3 separate regions of the Homo sapiens genome follow, and all the other regions are linked to region 2. Evidence: fine-mapped expression QTL. A gene starts in region 2. Each other region holds a variant in brackets. All regions are shown on one strand. Distances are between the middles of the regions. Region 1 overlaps SP4 (Sp4 transcription factor). Region 2 holds the start of SP4 (Sp4 transcription factor). Region 3 overlaps SP4 (Sp4 transcription factor).

Evidence for each region. PIP is the estimated chance that this variant, and not a neighbour inherited with it, causes the effect.
Region 1: its variant is the best candidate, but not a certain one, in a credible set for the expression of SP4 in regulatory T cells (Schmiedel 2018, PIP 0.54).
Region 3: its variant is the best candidate, but not a certain one, in a credible set for the expression of SP4 in lung (TOPMed, PIP 0.58).

What each region holds. Positions count from the first base shown.
Region 1 is chr7:21,459,725-21,463,966 of GRCh38, forward strand. The region is part of intron 3 of SP4 (Sp4 transcription factor); the gene reads left to right. Among named protein-coding and RNA genes, the nearest start is that of MIR1183, 9.2 kb to the right of the region's middle. The variant G/GT (reference allele first, on the strand shown) is at 2,303.
Region 2 is chr7:21,426,383-21,430,624 of GRCh38, forward strand. SP4 (Sp4 transcription factor) reads left to right here and starts at 1,701. Exons shown (of 6, transcript NM_003112.5): 1 at 1,701-1,876; 2 at 2,295-2,410; 3 at 2,907-4,242. The coding sequence starts at 1,870. RefSeq lists silencers at 635-1,024, 1,405-1,994.
Region 3 is chr7:21,484,933-21,489,174 of GRCh38, forward strand. The region is part of intron 5 of SP4 (Sp4 transcription factor); the gene reads left to right. Among named protein-coding and RNA genes, the nearest start is that of MIR1183, 16 kb to the left of the region's middle. The variant G/T (reference allele first, on the strand shown) is at 2,045.

The DNA of each region.
Region 1 (4,242 bases), 33 kb after region 2:
CCTGTTTTATCCATTTAATTGTTAGTGGTCCTGTTTACTAACTTTGTCCTCTTACCACTTCTCAACTGCATATCCATTTCTTTGGGACTTATTCCTTAAATTCCTACTAAGTCTAAGCACAAGGCTAAGTTCTGAGAGCATAAAGGTAGAAGCCTTTGCCTTCCAAAAGGTTATGTTCCAGTTGAGGAGACAGAATATTCATTAAAATAAAAGGTAATGCATAGAAGTAATACAAGTGGCATATGCTAAAAGAGAGATGAATGGTAAAAGATGGTAATACTAAAATTAAGAGCAGGATGAATCTTCTGAGAGCCAGGGCAGAAATAAAAGACTCCATGAAACCTGGTAGGCTTGAACTAATTCTTTGAGAAAAGGAGAGCCCTAACAGGAATAAAGAAGGAAGGCATTGTACAAAAGATAGTGTGTCCGGAATTGGTGGGTTCTTGGTCTCAATGACTTCCAAGAATGAAGCCACGGACCCTTGCGGTGAGTGTTAACAGTTCTTAAAGGCGGCATGTCCAGAGTTTGTTCCTTCTGATGTGGGGATGTGTTCGAAGTTTCTTCCTTTTGGTGGGTTTATGGTCTTACTGGCTCAGGATTGAAGCTGCAGACCTTCGCGATGAGTGTTACAGCTCTTAAGGCAGTGAGTCTGGAGTCGTTTTTTCCTCCCGGTGGGTTCGTGGTCTCGCTGGCTTCAGGAGTGAAGCTGCAGACCTTCGCGGTGAGTGTTACAGCTCATAAAGGCAGTGTGGACCCAAAGAGTGAGCAGCAGCAAGATTTATTGCGAAGAGCAAAAGAACAAAGCTTCCACAGTATGGAAGGGGACCCGAGCGGGTTGCCACTGCTGGCTCGGGCAGCCTGCTTTTATTTTCTTATCTGGCCCCACCCACATCCTGCTGATTGGCCCATTTTACAGAGAGCCGATTGGTCTGTTTTACAGAGCGCTGATTGGTCCATTTTGACACGGTGCTGATTGGTGCGTTTACAATCCCTGAGCTAGACACAAAAGTTCTCCACGTCACCACTAGATTAGCTACATACAGAGTGTAGATTGGTGTATTTACAAACCCTGAGCTAGACACAGAATGCTGATTGGTGCATTTACAAACCTTGAGCTAGACACAGAGTGCTGATTGCTGCATTTACAAACCTTCAGCTAGACACAGAGTGCCGATTGGTGCATTCACAATCCCTTAGCTAGACATAAAGATTCTCCAAGTCCCCACCAAGATTAGCTAGACACAGCTGATTGGTGCATTTCCAAACCTTGAGCTAGACACAGAGTGCTGATTGGTGTGTTTACAAACCTTGAGCTAGATACAGAGTGCTGATTGGTGTATTTACAATCCCCTAGCTAGACGTAAAGGTTGTCTAAGTCCCCACCAGACTCAGGAGCCCTGCTGGCTTCACCCAGTGGATTTCGCACCAGGGCTGCAGGTGGAGCTGCCTGCCAGTCCCGTGCCATGCGCCCGCACTCCTCAGCCCTTGGGCAGTCGATGGGACCGGGTGCCATGGAGCAGGGGGCGGTGCTTGTTGGGGAGACTCAGGCCGTGCAGGAGCCCACGGGGGTTGGGGGAGACTCAGGCTGTGCAGGAGCCCACGGCTGGGTGGGGGTAGACTCAGGCATGGTGGACTGCAGATCCTGAGCCCTGCCTCGCGGGGAGGCAGCTAAGGCCTGGCGAGAAATCGAGCGCAGCGCCAGTGGGCCAGTACTGCTGGGGGACCCGGCGCATCCTCCGCAGCTGCTGACCCAGGTGTTAAGCCCCTCACTGCCGGGGGCCAGCAGGGCCGGCCGGCAGGCCAGCCGCTCCAAGTGCAGGGCCCGCCAAGCCCACACCCACCCGGAACTCTAGCTGGCCTGCAAACACCGCGCGCAGCCCCGGTTGCCACCCGTGCCTCTCCCTCCACACCTCCCCGCAAGCCGAGGGAGCCAGCTGCAGCCTCGGCCAGCCCGGAGAAGGGCTCCCACGATGCAGCGGTGGGCTGAAGGGCTCCTCAAGCGCAGCCAGAATGGGCGCCGAGGCCGAGGAGGCACCGAGAGTGAGCCAGGGCTGCCAGCACGCTGTCACCTCTCAATAGGAAGTTGGAATATGCTTTGTATAAGAAAGAATGGATAGACCTTTAAAGTTCTAGTGGAGACTTTGAGGAGAATGTTAGAAAATGAAGTTCACAAGGTTGGTAGAAGTTTGGTTGTAGAATGACGATGTCAGACCAAGGACAGGTGAAAAGGGTATGTGAATGTGTATATTTTTGAGGGGTAGGGGACAGGAAGTTTCATTTATAAAGCAGTGTTTTAGTTTTA[G/GT]TTTTTTTTTTTTTTTTTTGAAGACAGGATCTCACTCTGTTACCCAGGCAGTGCAGTGGTGTGATCTTGGCTTGCTGCAACCTCCACCTCCCAGGCTGAAGCAATCCGCCCACCTCAGCCTCCCAAGTAGCTGGGACTACAGGTGTGCTGCCACCAGGCCCAGCTAATTTTTGTATTTTGTAGAGATGGGGTTTTGCCATGTTGCCCAAGCTAGTTTTGTTTTTTAACAGACGTAGGAGAAATGGGGAAGCCAGTTTCGGGACCATAGTATTGACTCAGATATCAGTGATGGGAAGTCTGAACTTGAGTGTAAAGTATGTGGTTCTCAAGAGTCTTAAAAAAATAAAAATAAAAAAGAATTTGATGTATGAATGGAGAGAGGAAAAATATTTTAAGGGTAATTCTGTAGAGTTTGAATCTGGATGACCATGAAAGTGCTTGTGCCATTGAAAGAAATGACTTCCAGAAAATGAAAGTGATGAACCTGAATTTTGATATTTGTTAATAAGTCTGAGCTAATAGTATGTTGAAAGTGTCTAGTTTGTATCTGGAGATTGGTCCTGAGAAGAGATCAGAATCAGCAGTCTAGATATGAAAGTCTTTTGCATGGAGATGGTGTAGAAATTATGGCAGTGTATGAAATTGAGGCAGACAGTTTTGAGTTTGAATTGCAGAATTATGAGAACTGAACTTAGGGTTACACCTGGTCTTTGGGGGCCAAAAGCAGAAAGTTAAGAAAAGTGAGAACCATCAGAGAAATAGAAAGAGAACAGGGTAGTATGTCAGCAGCTAAGAGGAATCTCAGATGGTATTGAATGTTGACTTGAGAGTATTGAGAAAAGTTCAGCAGGTTTTGTGTTTGAATCATTTGATAAGACCTAAGAACTGTGCTGTTCAATATGAAAGCCGTTGGTCACATGTGGCTTATAAACCTAAAATTAATTAAAATTAAAAACTTATTTCCTCAGTTGCATTAACTACATTTAAAGTGCTAATTACCACATGTGGCAAGAGGCTATCATATTGGACAGCACTGATAAATAACTTTTCTTTTTTTTTTTTTTTGAGACAGGGTCTGTCACCCAAGTGAAAGTGCTTCTAAAATGAGATTTTAAAAAGGTGAGTCAATGTTTGGAGAACCAGTCAGATGCTGATAATAGAAGGGAGAATAAAGATACTTTTGGGTGACTTCTCAGTAAATTAGGAGGCAAAATCATCTACAGATTGTAAGGTGCAAGGAAAGGGGAATGAGGATTTGAGGACAGAGGGAAAAAAATTGGAACAGCCAATGAAGGGCTATGTACATTGCCAGCATAGGATGAATGAAAGGTTACCAAGCAACAGTGATGGCTCAGGTAATGTAAAGTTTAGGGCTTTATTAGCCCTCCTGTAATCTCTTTCCTTGGTGTTTAGCAGCCTAAGAACACCAGAAAGTGGATGATAAGAATTACCATCAGGTGTGGCAGAAGTTCAGCGAGACACAAGGGATTACCACGGATGCTAAGCGAAGCCAGAGGAGGGTTGGATTGAGAGTGTGTCCACATAACTAGGGAACAAAGTGAGGATGAAGATTGAGTTCAAAAATAAACGGAGTGAAAGGGACAGGAAGTTAAATATCGTGGTTGGAGAAGAGATAGTGCCAAGCCTGACTTCTTGGAGGAAGAGCAGTTCTAGTTGAAGACAGAGTTTGAGCTGGGTTGTGTCTGTAGGAGACATCTGAATGTAGAACTGATTTTTTTTCCAAACCTGCTTCCTCTCCGGGGTTCCCCTATTTCTGTTAATGGGATCATCATCACTCAAATTAGAATACTTATAGATTTATTTGATCTTTATCAATTAATTATCTTAAAAGTTTATAGTTCTAAGGTTCAAGTCTTAGTTTAGCCACTTAAATCTTGATCAAGTGTTTCTCTAGGTCTGACTGTCCTCATCTGTAAAAT
Region 2 (4,242 bases):
TCAGCTGATTTTGCAATTACCTTAACAAGCAAAGGAAATGCCAGTCAAGTTCAGCATCTGGGACCTCCTCACCATTGCAACATGTCAGGCCTCAGGCAGGAGACAAAAATGCCCAAGGCTGAGTGTGAAGCCCAGGTAAGAAGTGAGACAATGGCTTTGAGCCTGGGGTGTAAGCATGCCTTGTTCCCAAGGCCAGTATTTACATGTGGGGTCACTTCCACCTTTGGTACAGTTAATCAGGCGCTGATTACGTTCCATGGCATCATCCTGACTTCAGGACTTTGTAGGAAAGCTGAGGCAGGACACTGCTCAAGTGCATTTGACAGTAAGATGCTTTGTGCAGCCAGATGTTAATTCCACTTGCCCTTACGCTTGCTTACGCTACACCGTAAGCGGGGCTGACCCTTATGGAGCTGGGCTTTTCTTCGCCCGGAGACTCTTGTCAGATAAGGCTTAGAACTCCGCCAACCACTTAGGCTTTTAGGCAAAACGCGATGCAACCCTTCTTAGAAGGCGGGTCACTGCTCTGCACCAGCTGCCAGCCAGAGAGACAACAAATAAAAATGGAAGATCCTTCTCCGTGAGAAAACAGGCCTCGGACTCAAAGCAGGGGGCCTGAGGGGAAGGTGAGCAAAGAAAGGCAAGGCGAGGGCGCTGCTTCAAGAAGCCGGGTTCATTCAAACCCCGAGGACAGCAAACCCCGCCTCCCCACGCCGCCGCCCGCTCAATCGCCGAGCGCTCCGGGTGTGAGCTCGCCCCGCGGGGAGCGGCTTGGAGCCGAGGAGGCGGCGGCAGAGGTGGTTTGGGCAGCCCCGCGCGGCGGATAGGCCCAGGCAAACAACACCCATTCCCCCTCCTCCTCGCTCAGTTCAACTCCCACTCGGCCCCGGCCACGCCCTGCCGCCACCGCCCCCTCGGGCAGCTTTCCGCTCGGCAGCCAGGCCTCGGTCGGGGGCGGGAGAGAGGCGGTGCCTCGAAGAAGGCACCGCGACCGCCGGAAACTACGAGTACCGACAGCCTTCGCGGTAGTGCCCCACCCCCTTTCTCCCACCACTCAGCGCGCGTCACCCTGGGCTCAGCCAATGGAGACAGAGCCAGGGAAAAAGGGCGCCCGGGTCCGGATGCGCCTCAGGAAAGCCATGCTCCCTGCGCGGGGGCAGCGGGCAGTTCACCCAGCGCGCCGACCTGTTGGTGGTCCGCGCGCGCCCACGTCCGCCGCTCTCGCTTGCCTGGATCAAGGGCCCTACTTTTTTCTTTAGTGGCAATTGGAGGGATTGCTGGAGGGGGTTTTTGAGTGGAGGGCGCTGGGAAATGAGTAGGGGGCGGGATATCCTGAGACAACAAGTTTGGCTGTATGGAGGGCCTACCGGCAGCGCTCCTGAGCTAGAACGCCGAGAGAAAGAGCGCCAGAGGAGCCAGGGAGGAGGAGAAGAGCTGCTAAAGGAATAACCCCGAGAAAGGGGGTGGAGAGGAGGCGGCCCCAGCGCCCCGGCCCCCGGCAGGTCGGCGGCCAATCCGCTGGGGGAAGGGGTGGAGAGTCGGAGGCTCCGGCGGAGAGAGGCCGAGGGGGGTGGGGAGTCGGCCAGGCTCGCACCGCCCTGGCCCCGCCCCCGACCCGCGCCGCCGCCCGCGCCGCGCGCCGCCGCTGTCAATCAAGGGCGAGTCAGCCGGGCTCGGGCGGAGAGAGGAGCTGCTACGCCACAGCCCAGCGGCGGCCATTCGCGGAAAAAGAGGCAGAGCCTGTGCCAGCTACAGCCTCCTCCGAGCCACCGCGGGCGGGCGGGACCGGCCTCTCCTCCCGCCTCGCCCCCACCCCCACCCACCTCTATCCCAGTGTCTCCGTCTGAGGGTTTGTCCTGTTAATGCGGGATGAGCGGTACGTATTCTCCACCCCCCTCAGTCTCCTTCGCCGCCTCCCTCTCTCCCTCCCTCCCCAGACCCTGCTCGGTTCTCCCCCCTCCCCCGGGGCCGCTGAGATGCTTTAAGGGGAGGAGGAGAGGGCGGGAGGGAATCGGGGAGGGAAGGAGGGTTGTGTTTTGTCTTAATGTCTGAGAGAGAACAACCTCCTTCTGGGTGTTGCTCTGGAGCCGATGGGTCGGGTTTCAAACCACGTTTTGTGATATCCCCCTCCTCCCTTCCCTCCTTCTCCCCCACCCCCTGCCGGTGTGCGTGGATCGCGGGTTTATGGAGATTAATGTTCGGGGGGAGGGGGGAGAAGAGGAGAGGAAGAAGACGAATAATAATAATCCTAATAACCTGTTGTCGTGTGTGTGTGGTGGGGGGGTTTGTTGCAGATCAGAAGAAGGAGGAGGAGGAGGAGGCGGCAGCGGCAGCGGCGATGGCTACAGAAGGAGGGAAAACCTCTGAGCCAGAGAATAACAATAAAAAACCCAAAACCTCAGGCTCCCAGGTAAAAGCAAACAAATTAAAAAAATTCATCACGACACATTAGGAGAGAGAGGGAGTTATGCCCTTTGAATGTCCAGAAGTAACAGAATAAAATGTTTATCCACTCAAAGCATCTTTCTGAGAGTGTGGAACTTAAATTGTAAATTCATCAAGTTTTCACCTCTTTGAGGGTATAACGCTGTTTAAAATTACATCAGGAATTCAGACTATAAGAAAACGGTGTGTGTGTTCCCAAGGGCATTTTGAGTTTAGGAACATAACACTTTACAAAGTTGTAAAGAAATTTCCTTTTATTTAAACTTGATATTATAGGACTTGCTTCCTTATTCATATAGTTCTTATCTACTTTTGTTCGTATTTCTTTTTGATTTCTGCTGCTTCCTAAATTGTTATGTAGAGCTGTCAAAATAAGTAACCCCCTGGCAACTACTGGCCTCCACTAAATCCGCCCACTTTTTTTCCCCCCCCCCTCTCCTTTACCGTCCCATTTTGGGTAGGACTCTCAGCCCTCTCCTCTGGCTTTACTGGCAGCTACTTGCAGCAAAATAGGGACTCCTGGTGAAAATCAAGCAACTGGACAACAACAAATTATTATAGATCCAAGTCAAGGATTGGTGCAACTTCAAAATCAACCACAACAGCTAGAACTGGTAACAACGCAACTTGCTGGAAACGCTTGGCAACTTGTTGCCTCCACTCCTCCTGCTTCAAAAGAGAATAACGTTTCTCAACCAGCCTCTAGTTCGTCTAGTTCTTCCAGCAGTAATAACGGGAGTGCATCTCCTACAAAAACTAAATCAGGTAATTCTTCCACCCCTGGTCAATTTCAAGTCATACAAGTACAAAATCCAAGTGGTAGTGTACAGTACCAAGTAATTCCACAACTTCAGACAGTGGAAGGTCAACAAATTCAAATCAATCCAACTAGTAGTTCATCTCTACAGGATTTGCAGGGTCAAATTCAGCTCATTTCTGCAGGTAATAATCAAGCTATACTCACAGCTGCTAACAGGACAGCTTCTGGGAATATTCTTGCTCAAAACCTGGCAAATCAGACAGTTCCGGTCCAAATTAGACCTGGTGTTTCAATACCACTGCAGTTACAGACTCTTCCTGGTACTCAGGCTCAAGTTGTAACAACCCTACCAATTAACATTGGAGGAGTGACTCTAGCTTTGCCAGTGATAAACAACGTGGCTGCCGGAGGAGGGACTGGGCAGGTTGGCCAGCCTGCTGCTACTGCTGATAGTGGGACTTCCAATGGGAATCAATTAGTTTCCACACCCACCAACACCACTACTTCTGCCAGTACTATGCCAGAATCTCCCTCCTCCTCCACTACCTGCACAACCACTGCTTCAACGTCTTTGACAAGCAGTGACACATTAGTGAGCTCAGCAGATACTGGCCAGTATGCAAGCACATCAGCCAGTAGTTCTGAACGCACCATTGAAGAATCTCAAACACCTGCTGCTACTGAGTCTGAAGCCCAGAGCTCCAGTCAGCTTCAGCCTAATGGAATGCAGAATGCACAGGATCAATCAAATTCTCTTCAGCAGGTGCAAATTGTAGGCCAACCTATCTTACAGCAGATCCAGATCCAACAGCCTCAGCAACAGATCATTCAGGCTATTCCACCACAGTCGTTTCAACTCCAGTCAGGGCAGACGATTCAGACCATCCAGCAGCAGCCTTTACAGAATGTTCAACTTCAAGCAGTAAATCCGACTCAGGTGCTTATCAGGGCTCCAACTTTAACACCTTCAGGGCAAATCAGTTGGCAAACTGTACAGGTTCAGAATATTCAGAGTCTTTCAAATTTGCAAGTTCAGA
Region 3 (4,242 bases), 59 kb after region 2:
CCATTATTATCTACTGGATTGACAATTCATAATCCAATATACTTTAAGCTTACTTTCAGTGGTTCAAACATCTTAAATATATCACACATAAAATTGTTTAATTAAAACAGGTTGACACTAAAAAATATTAATATCAGTATACTTAAAATTGTTACTTTTAAAGATTTAACAGAGTAACTCCTGTTTGTTAAATTTGTCTAAAAGAATATGAAAAAATATATTTTGAAATAAGTATTGATTAAGCATTTAATATGTTAAGTTGAAAGCCTTAACCATTCGTAGCAACAACTATGCTTTATTTGATGTCTAACCACTACTACAAATAGAAACTTATTGACTTGGCTATGAATGAATGGAGTTATTTGTATTCACTGCTGAAAATAGTGATCTGTTTGCTTTTTAAAAAAATTTGTAAAGGTTTTCAAAACAATATATGCATATGGTATTTAAAAATGAAATCACAGAAAAGTTTACTGTAATAAGGAGGCTCTTTGCCCCACCCCATCCTGCTTTCCAGAGAATATCATAGCTAACTATTTTAACTATTTTTGCATTTTTGTTCTTTCTAGGATGACTGTCATGTATCTAAATCATATACTTAAACACTGTTATTTATTGATCTATCAATATTTTATACTATCTATTGAGTTCTTGCATTTAGAATTAAGGATTTACTTCACTTTGCACCATCTGAAGACATTAAGATTCTTTTGAAAAACTGTATGCAGGCCAGGCATTCTCTCTTAACTCACCACTCTATTTCCAATAAAGTTAGACAATGCCTTTTCTTTTTTCTTGTATTGTTTGACTTTACCTGAAATAATCTTTAGTTATTTCAAGTTTTTAAGAACAATGTGAATTCCAGTCACATTTTCCTTTTTTCTGGAGCCTTCCATCTTTCTAATGAACATGAACAGTTTCTTCTGTAGACCTGTTCCAGGGGTATTATCTTGAGATTTCTTCCCTTCTCTGTTCGTTTTAGATCTCATATTGGTTCTCAAGATCTCGTGTTTTCATTTTTCTTGGTCTACTCTCTTCGTTGCTGGAAAACGTGCTGAAATGCTTCCTAACGAAAAGCTTGGGGAAATAAATTTGTCTAAAGGATTCTTTATTTTCTCTTTCTGCTTAATTTGGTTGTTTGGCTAATACAGTATTCTAGATTGAAAATTACATTCTCTTAAAACATTGTCACAGCTCTATTTTCTTTCATCTGTTTTATCAACAAGAGGTTTGTTATTTTTTCTTGTTTTTTTTTTCTGTAGGTGACCTGATTTCTTCCCTGCAGCTTTATTTTTATTTTGAAATAATTTTATACTTAGAGAAGAGTTGCAAAGCTAGCATAGAGTTCGCATATCATTCACCAAGCTTCCCTTATTGTAAACTTCTTGTATAACCACAGTACCTTATGAGAATTAAGAAATTAACATTGTTGCAATACTATTAATTACACTTTCCACCAATATACCTTTTCTTTTCCAGGATTCAGTCTGGAATAACACACTGCATTTGTTTGTCATGTTTCCTTAGTCTCCTGCAATCTGTGACTTTTCCTAGTCCTTTCCTTGTCTTTTATCACCTGGACACATTTGAAAGTGGTTTTGGTATTTTTAGAATGTCTGTCACATTGGGTTTGTCTAATGTTTTCTAATGATTAGAGTAAGATTGTGAATTGTCATGAGAAGAATAGCACATTAGTGTCTTTCTCTTATCATATAAGAGGAAGTATGTAATGTGATTATCTCATTATTGGTGATGTTAACCCTGATGTATTGGTTAATGTAGGGTGTGCCACATTTCTTCACTGTAAAGTTACAGTTTCTCTCTTTCCATATTGTTTGTTAGAAGCAAGTCACTAAGTTCAGTCGACATTCAGGGGGAAGAGAACTAAGCTTCACCTCCTGAAGGGAGAAGTATCGAAGAATTTGTGGACATATGTTAAAACCACCACAATAATTACTATTTTAGAGGAGTTTGGGGGGCTTTTTTACAAATAAAATACTAAAGCTTCACTTTTAGCATTCCTCAGTGGATCTTGCCTGCAGCA[G/T]TTATTACTGTGATGTTTGAAAGGTCATTTTCAATTTTCCTTGTTCTTTGTACCACTTATACTTTCTTCTCCAATTATTTATGCAATCATTTATTTACATTGGTATGGTCTCATGAGTAGTTCTTTTGTTCTTTGGGTTATAATTCAATACTATCATTTTCTTGCTCAAATTGTTTCACCTTTGGCCATTGGAAGGTCTTTCACATTAGTTCCTGTGTCTTCTTGAAGTGCCCCTGTTTTGTTTTTAACGCTAAGGGCGCCTTTTAATCTGTGGTGTGCTGCTAATTTCATAATGCTGTATCTGAGAATAGATTTTTATTTGTTGTGCTAATGACTTGTACTCTGGGTCACCTCTCTCCCTCTCTCTCTCTTTCTCTGTCTCTCTCTCTCTGTCTCTCTGGGCTCTTAGTAGACATATTTTGGAATCTCTAGGGTTTTTTTTTTTTTTTTGGTCTTACAGTTTTTCTCTTATATCTTTTGTCTCATTACCATTTTATTTTCCATGAAATTTTTTAAGTTTACTTTCAGATATTTCTATTGAATTGCATTTTAATTTCCAATAGTGTATTCCATCATTGTTGGTGGGTTTTGTTTTGTTTTACTGCATTTTGTTCTCATTGTATGGATGCAGGTGCTTGCTGAAATTATCTCAGTTTTTTAATCTAGAATTTTATGTTTCCTCCAGGATGATTTTTTTGTCTGTATCTTTTTCCAGTGTTGTAGGCGTTCCTGAATTGTCCAGTGATTCTTTGTTTTTGTTCAAGTTGATGATGATGATGATGATGATGGTGGTGGTGGTGGTGGTGGTGGTGGTGGTGGTGGTCATGGTGGTGATTTGATGAAATCTTAAGTGAAAGATTTTGAAAACTTTATGAGCTAGTGGCGTTTTGTTTTGGTTTTTTTGAGACAGGGTCTCTGTCTGTCACCAGGCTGGAGTTCACTGGCACGATCACAGCTCACTGCAACCTCCTCCACCTCCCAGGCTCAAGTGATCCTCACACCTCAGCCTCCCGAGTAGCTGGGACCACAGGTGCATGCCACCACACCTGGCTAATTTTTCTATTTTTTGCAGAGACAGATTTTTCTCAGTGTTGCCCAGGCTGGTGTTGAACTCCTGAGCTCAAGCAATCCATCCTCCTCAGCCTCCTGGAGTGTTGGGATTATAGGTGTGAGCCACTGCCTCTGCCAAGCTAGTGGCTTTTATTTTAGGTAACTGGGTGGAACACTGTGTTACACTGGAAGATGCCTAATTACCAAAATACAATAATATGCTGTGCAACCATGTTTTTTTAAGATACAAATCTTTAATATTAACATTTTGCCCCAATTTTTTGATAGTAGTTATAGTCTATGTATGGACTTTAATTTTGTTTTATGTTCCATGTCTCCCTCCCAGCAGAAGACATTGACTGTCTTCTAGAACATATTCTCTTCCTTGACAATTTATTTTCTAGTTTGCAGACATTTGATATAATCATTGTTTTGCTGATGGACTTCCTTTCCTTTTTTTTTTTTTTTGTTATTGTAGATTTAACCCTTTTATGCCTTTACTATTATTTTAATGGGTGTCTCAGTGGGGAGAATAAACAAACACATGTAATCATGCTGCTCTCTTAAACTTTAAAGGGTTACATTTAGCCAGGTGCAGTAGTGCACACCTATAGTCCCAGCTACTCAGGAGGCTGAGGCGGGAGAACTGCTTGTGCTAGGAGTTCGAGGCTATAGTGCCTATGATCCCGTGAATAGCCACTGCACTCCAGCCTGGGCAATATAACAAGACCCCGTCTCTTAAAAAAAAAATACTGATAACTTGGAAATACTATAATGATACAACTAAATGGATAATGTCTATAATAACGATGTCATATAGATATGCACACTTTTATGTTACATGTGTTAATATAGTGTACTTTGTGAATATTTTATTGTAGATACTTTGCCTACTTACTGGACTGTTTTATTTGCCATTCATAATCCACTTAGAAGTAAGGCAATCTAGGGATGATTTTTAGCAACTAGTGTTATAGGGATCTTTAACCAGATCTCAAATTCTTTTTCACCAGCTAAGAAAAAATCCTTTTCAAAAGAGCCCCTAAAAAGTCTTGTGCAACTGCAGTATAGGTTCTTTATAATATATGACGACTTAGTGTTTTAGCCAAGATACAATTTTATATAAAGTTAAATGTATTTATAATTGT